Linked DNA regions of Homo sapiens. The protein of the gene in region 1 purifies or fractionates together with the protein of each later gene. This does not show direct contact. Each region holds a gene or a part of one and is shown in the gene's direction. Other genes may lie near its edges.

Region 1 (4,314 bases):
GAGTAAGACCCTGTTTCTAAAAAGAAAAAAATAAAATAAAAACACACAAATCAGTACTATCTTTTTCAATGAAATGTACATTTTCAAGGATATACAAGTGCCAGTTGGTAAAGGGTGGAGGAGAATGGGATGTGGGGATTAAGGGTGAAAGAGAGAAACTAAAGAAAGTAAAACAAAACAAGAGAGAGGTCTTGTACAGTCTGATGATGGGAGTGATACCAATGGGGGAATATCATTGGCTCCATTTTCTACATCTGTGGACCAAGACCAATCCATCAAGCTTAATATGTAATATAAATATTAAAGAATATTTTGATAACAATTTATCATTATATTAACAGATCATTTAATTTAAATATTTCATATTTAATTTATCACACTGAAACTAATCTATTAAATTTCATACATCATAATTTCTGGCCAATCCCTCCCTCACTACTGCCTGCCGCACTTTGTGCCCCGACTGCCCACCTGCACTAGACACATAATGTCGGTACTCACAATTTCGTTTGTTTGTTTGTTTTGTTTTTTGAGAAGGAGTTTCGCTCTTGTTGCCTAGGCTGGAGAGCAATGGTGCGATCCCGGCTTACTGCAACCTCTGCCTCCCGGGTTCAAGTGATTCTCCTGCCTCAGCCTCCTGAGTAGCTGGGATTACAGGCGCCCACCACCAAGCCCAGCTAATTTTTGTATTTTTAGTAGAGACAGGGTTTTGCCATGTTAGCCAGGCTGTTCTTGAACTCCTGACCTCAGATAATCCACCCGTCTTGGAATCTCAAAGTGCTGGGATTACAGGCGTGAGCCACCCCGCCTGGCCACAATTTTTTTTTAAAAGGAGGTCTCCCTCTGTTGCCCAGGCTAGAGTTCAGTGGCGCGACATCGGTTCATTGCAGCCTCGACCTCCCGGGCTCAAGCGATCCTCCCACCTCAGCCTCCTGAGTCGCTGGGATAACAGACGTGAGCCACCGGGCCCAGCTCTATACTCATAATTTGACAATTATGTTTTTATTTCCCCAGAACCTCAAAAAATAAGTTCAGGTGACCCCCCTGGAGACCCCACCCCAGGGTCATTCTGAGAGTACCAACCCTATTTAATGAGATACCTGCATTCACTCACCCCCTCTCCCGCAACCACCCCTTCAGCAAGTCGCGCTCCACCCAATTAGGAGGGGCTTTAGGCTGGGCCTAAAAAGTTGGGCCAAGACCCCACGAGGCAGCATCTCCGCCGGCGTCCCCAAGGCTGAGAGTGGGCGCGTCCGTCAGGAGGAGTCGTCTTTGTGAGCCCGCCCCGGCGGGGAGGAGCTGCCCGGCTCAGGCCCCGCCCACCCGGAGGATCTTGGGGCTGGTCTGAGTCCGCTCCTGAGACGTGACCACCCGCCCCGCATGGGGCCCCAGTCCCAGCTGCTTGATCCGGCTCAGCCCCGAGGTGTTTGCAGCAGCTCTTTATGAAAGTCCAGCCATCTGTTACCTGCGTTGCTTCCTGGGGAGGGATAGTCCACCTGGAGGCATTCGGAGACCCAGTGATTGTGCTCCGCGGAGCCTGGGCTGTGCCCCGCGTTGACTGCCTCATAGATACCCTACGAACCCCAAGTAAGAAAAAACGACGACCCTCTCTCCGTGAGTCTCACTGGGGTGCTGACCTAGAGTGAACCCTGCTTGCTTAGGGCTCCTGACCCAGCGCTTGTCCTTTCTCAGGGTGGATGGGGCGAGACCCCTGCTGGGATAAATGTTTTCCCTGGGGCAAGGGCTGTGCACTTCGCAGCTGCTGGGTCCCCTCCCTAGGATCCAGGGAGACACTCACTACTCCTCTCCATTCTGTGTTTTAGATGCCAGCTGCATGAGAAAAGGGACTCACCTTCTGGTTCCCTGCCTGGAAGAGGAAGAGCTGGCATTGCACAGGAGACGGCTGGACATGTCTGAGGCACTGCCCTGCCCGGGCAAGGAGACCCCCACCCCAGGCTGCAGGCTGGGGGCCCTGTATTGGGCCTGTGTCCACAATGATCCCACCCAGCTCCAAGCCATACTGGATGGTGGGGTCTCCCCAGAGGAGGCCACCCAGGTGGACAGCAATGGGAGGGTGAGATGTCCTGGCTTCCCAGAACAGCTGGGGGCATCTTTGCATCCCCACCACACCGTCCTGGCCTGGCTCCCTGAGAGGGGTTCAGGGGCAATACCTCCTGCAGTCCTAAGGAGGAAGGGAATGGTTAAGGGCGGGTCTTCACGGGGTTTGGGGCAGGCTCTGGGACAGATATGGGTTTAGAGGGTGCAAGGGGCCCTGGAGTGGCCCAGGGGGAAAGCAGGGGATCTGAGCTGCCCCTCCCTCAGACAGGCCTCATGGTCGCATGCTACCACGGCTTCCAGAGTGTTGTGGCCCTGCTCAGCCACTGTCCTTTCCTTGATGTGAACCAGCAGGACAAAGGAGGGGACACGGCCCTCATGTTGGCTGCCCAAGCAGGTGTGAGGCTGCTGCACCCCACTTCCGACAGCCCCCTTTTGATGCAGACAGGGCCTCAGCCCCACCCTTGTTGCACGGTGTTCTACACCAGACTCTGTCATGCTGGGTGGAGGGCGGTTTGGGAGCTTCATCACCCCCTTTCCTGGGGACCAAGCTTACCCTTGCTGCCCTGCAGGCCACGTGCCTCTAGTGAGTCTCCTGCTCAACTACTATGTGGGCCTGGACCTGGAACGCCGGGACCAGCGGGGGCTCACGGCGTTAATGAAGGCTGCCATGCGGAACCGCTGTGAGTGCGTGGCCACCCTCCTCATGGCAGGTGTGCGGGGCCTGGACCGGGGTGTGTGGCCTCCAGTCCCTCCTCCAAGCCTTCCCACCAGACACTAAGTCAGCTGTGATTATTTGCAGAAAGGAGAGAGGTGGAGATGGGGGATCAATCTAGTTCACCTTCCTGGAGGGGGGGGCACATGATTTGGGCTTCGTACAATCAACCAAGTCCTGCTATTGATAGCTCAGACATTGTGTGTGGAGGTCCCAGGAAGGAAAGTGTGGGAGGGGAACCTAGCCCAGCTGGAAAATCTAACACGAAAAAAGGCTGGCATCTGGAACCAGCCCCTGTTCCTAGCTGAGTGGCTTCCCTCTTTGGGCCTCACCAGTATTGTGAGGGTGTTAGCTTTCCCTGGGACTACCTCCAACTCTGACAAGCCAGGCTTCCAGGGGATCCAGGGAAGTGTCGTTGAGGCCTGTGGCTCTGTGGGGTCGTTCAGGGGGAGGTGCGGTGAAGTCCACATTGTCCATGGAGTTGTTTGGGGGCCCTTCTTCCCCGCAGTGGGGCTGCCCTCTGCTGGTCACTCTGGGGGACCCCTGCCTCCATTTTTCCCTTCCCCACACACCCCACTGGGTTTGGAGTGAAAAAGGAGTGAATGAAAAAGGAGGGCGCTCTACACCCTTTCTTTTGTCTTAGAGTGACTGCTCCTCCCACAACCCCAAGATGGGAGAGGGAGATGGTGAGAAGAGAAGAACCAGGAGAGGGAACCAGCCGATCATCCCCACCCACCTGCCCCAGAGGGTGCAGCTCAGGCCTCTGCCTGTCCTGGGCAGCCTGCACCGCTGCTCTGCTCAGCTCCTTGGATTGAGGAGATCCCTATTCTGCCCTAGGTGGAGCCCCACAATAGGTCTCTCTGAAGTCTTTTCCCCTCTCTGGACCTAAGTGTCTTAATCTCTCTTAAACAGGAGGTTGCAACACTGGCCTCCCTGATTCCACCTTCAACAGGATGGGACTCTATGGCTTCGAATGTAACCCACATCAGTCTTGCTCCTAAAGAATCTGCCCTTCCACAAATCACCAACCCCTATCCCGCCCCATGTCACCCCCTGTGCTCCTTCCCAGGTGCTGACCTGACAGCAGTGGACCCTGTTCGGGGCAAGACGGCCCTGGAATGGGCAGTGCTGACCGACAGCTTCGACACCGTGTGGAGGATTCGGCAGCTGCTGAGGCGGCCCCAAGTGGAGCAGCTTAGCCAGCACTACAAGCCCGAGTGGCCGGCCTTGTCCGGGCTCGTGGCCCAGGCCCAGGCCCAGGCCCAGGTTGCCCCTTCACTCCTAGAACGGCTGCAGGCTACCTTGAGCCTCCCCTTTGCCCCGTCTCCTCAGGAGGGGGGTGTTCTGGACCACCTTGTGACTGCCACAACCAGCCTGGCCAGTCCCTTCGTCACCACTGCCTGCCACACTCTGTGCCCTGACCATCCACCTTCGCTGGGCACCCGAAGCAAGTCCGTGCCAGAGCTGTTAGGTACTGCCCCGCCCCCTCCCCTGGTTCCCCAGTCCCCGCCAGGGAGTCCCCAGAGGTCCCCGTGGGTCTTCGT
Region 2 (2,708 bases), on another chromosome or scaffold:
TCAGCCTCTGAGCACAGCCTGGGGTCATCTGTGTGCCCTCTGGCCAAGGCTGATGGTAGTTCTCTGAGTAATTGAGAGTCATTGCCTGTCTGTGCAGTATTGTGAAAACAAGTCACCTTTTAACTTTAAAACTACTTTAAAAAACTTTAAAGTTTTAAAAAAACTTCTTTAAAAACTACTCATGAGATGACAGTTTCTCTGACCCTCAGAGGAAGGCTGGGCTGCGCATACGTGAGGAATTTTTACATGAACATCCCAGGACTTGCTGTTCGCAGGTGATAAACTGCACCTCCCCAGGACTCCCGCTGCACTCACATGCAGCTCCCTGGACTTCTGGTATCTGACCCGGCCCATTTCTGTGTTTCAGGGGAGAATTTGGCTTGCGGGAGTACTCAGAAGTTAAGACGGTGACAGTAAAGATCCCCCAGAAGAACTCCTAAGAAGGCCAAGAAGGAGGATGAAGCCCAGCCTGCACGTCTGTCCCTCTCTGCTTTCTCTGTAGGGCCCAGCTCTCAGGAATACAAAGTTGAGCCACGGTCCTTACTTAAAGATTGAAAAGATAACATGTAGGCCAGGCAGGTCACTGCACAACTAAAGCAAACCAGCTGGGTACAGTTTCTTGGCACTCTGTAAGGGGCCACCTTAATCATACCAAATATTGGGGAAAGTGGGATAAAGGGAGGAGGAGGAGCTAGCAGACACATCCAGTATCTCCTTCTGGAGCACAGGATGAAATAAGGGAGCTGTATTATTTCATGTCTTTGTCACAAAGAACTTTCCTCTCAAGGAAAGGTGACCTTTCTCCTGTCTTCATTTTCCTCCTTCCAGGCCCTCCTCGCTCACCCACCCCTCCCTCTCTTCCAAGGAGATGTCAGCTGAGCTCATTCTGGGGCAGATGTTTGGGCCGGGAACAATTTTTCAAGGTTGTAAAGCCAAATTATCATTTCATGTTATCCATTTCTTCAAAGCAAAACATGAAATGGTTTTAGCTAGAGTCAGACCAGAATGAAAATGCCAGGAGCTGGTACACTACAGATGTAGTAAGAACCTGGGATATTCCTGACCCAATCTGGTTTTCTTTTACCCATAAATAACATGAATGAAAAAAGATTGGGACAATAGAGACTGGAAGTCATCATGTGCAGTTCACCGCTTCTGAGCTTGCTGCAGTTTTGGGGTGTGTGTGTATTAGATTCCTTCTCAGTTATTCTGGAATAAGGCAAGGAGTGGGTTGTTTTTCATAGCTAGATAAGATCTTTTCCAAAGTTTTTCTTAGAACCAACCAAAAAACAATCCGAGTAGGCCCAAGAATTTGATAATGCTGGATGCCTTGCAGACATCATTCAGTTTCTAATATTGGGCAACAATTATTATTAAATGAATTATTTCTGTAGTTGGAATCTGTACCTTCTGAACCTCTACACCAATAACTGCTGCAGGTGTGATTTTGGTCTGTCACACTGTACATCTATCATAATGTGCCCTGTATCTATTGGCAGTGACCTTGGAAAATCTGGCCAAGCCTAGGGGTTTCCTTTTCCATTTGCCAAGTTCCATTGTGCCAGGACTGCCGTGCTCCACTGAGCTCCTCTGTCACACCCCATTCTTGCCCCTCACTGGGCAGGCCATGGCCTACAGCTTGCAGGGAGTAAAGCAGGCCCGCCTCCCTTTCTTCCCATCCACATACTCCTCTTCTGCTTTCCAGTGACTCCACCAGTTTGATGTGGGAAGTGTTAGCTTCCTTTCCTTCTTCCATCCCTTCTTCCATCTTTCCAGCTGTCAAATCCAATCCAGTCTCTAACCTAAATGCAGATCATTTATTTAAAAGTACCAAACATAACCCAGAGTATGTGGAATATGGGCAACATATATATAGCCTTCTGTATTTAACGATCTTCTGCTTCTTAACCGTACCAGTTTTCTATTTATAACTCTTATCTATCCATGATGTTTTAAAGTCTCCACTTGCTGTTATTTACAAACGACAGTGCATTCAGCAGCCCAGTGCCGTGAGCCCTGACAGATGCCGTATTTCTGAGTGCTTCCATGTGAATGCTGCCCTCCTGTAGCATGTGTCCAAGTGGACATAGCCACTAACCAACTAGTTACCTTTGGACTGCAACAAAAAATGTGAAAATGAAGATTTATTTCTTTTAATTTACTTAAAAAGAAACCTCTGTGCTAGCAATAAAGCATTTATATTGTGTACTCCTTGGGATTGTTTGGCTGTGTCTGTAAGTCTTTGGGTCATACTGAGTCTCTTTGGGTCCTTCCTCAGCTGCTGGGTTTTTCAGCTGTGTTGCCCTCTTGGGTAACTGAGCAGAAGCCTGCAAGGGTATTTTTACAGAATTCATTAAGGCAACTGGTAAATGGTATTAAGGTAAACAAAAACCTTATTTTCTGATGCTATTTAAAATCTGTGTGCATGTGTAGTTTAGCTGGCATGTAAGTATAACCATATATGAAATATATGAAATAACAAGTTTCCTTTAGAATAGCCTCCATGAAAACTAAAATGCAGAGCAGTCTATAGGGTCTGTTTTCACAAACGTGGACTACCCGCCGTGAGCTCACATTGCTGATGGCATTTCACAGTAGCTTTATTTTTACTTACTTACCAAAGTGAAATGAAGTCAGAGGCTGATAACCTGATGGAATATTTTTGCAGCTGTAAAAAGAAATCTGTAAATGGTGACCGTACTACTACC

What was found.
Region 2: the proteins of ANKRD33 (region 1) and ALDH1A2 purify together in Homo sapiens (affinity purification with mass spectrometry; one large-scale study listed by BioGRID and IntAct). This does not show direct contact.

The regions. Positions count from the first base shown.
Region 1 is NC_000012.12:51,886,745-51,891,058, forward strand, and holds the start of ANKRD33 (photoreceptor ankyrin repeat protein), read left to right. Parts: upstream 1-1,358; 5' UTR 1,359-1,442; coding exon 1,443-1,587; coding exon of another isoform or gene 1,588-1,614; intron 1,615-1,823; coding exon 1,824-2,074; intron 2,075-2,322; coding exon 2,323-2,452; intron 2,453-2,627; coding exon 2,628-2,738; coding exon of another isoform or gene 2,739-2,836; exon of another isoform or gene 2,837-3,413; coding exon of another isoform or gene 3,414-3,415; exon of another isoform or gene 3,416-3,682; coding exon of another isoform or gene 3,683-3,745; exon of another isoform or gene 3,746-3,839; coding exon 3,840-4,314. UniProt on the Homo sapiens protein: Acts as a transcriptional repressor for CRX-activated photoreceptor gene regulation.
Region 2 is NC_000015.10:57,952,929-57,955,636, reverse strand, and holds the end of ALDH1A2 (retinal dehydrogenase 2), read left to right. Parts: intron 1-367; coding exon 368-440; 3' UTR 441-2,208; downstream 2,209-2,708. UniProt on the Homo sapiens protein: Catalyzes the NAD-dependent oxidation of aldehyde substrates, such as all-trans-retinal and all-trans-13,14-dihydroretinal, to their corresponding carboxylic acids, all-trans-retinoate and all-trans-13,14-dihydroretinoate, respectively.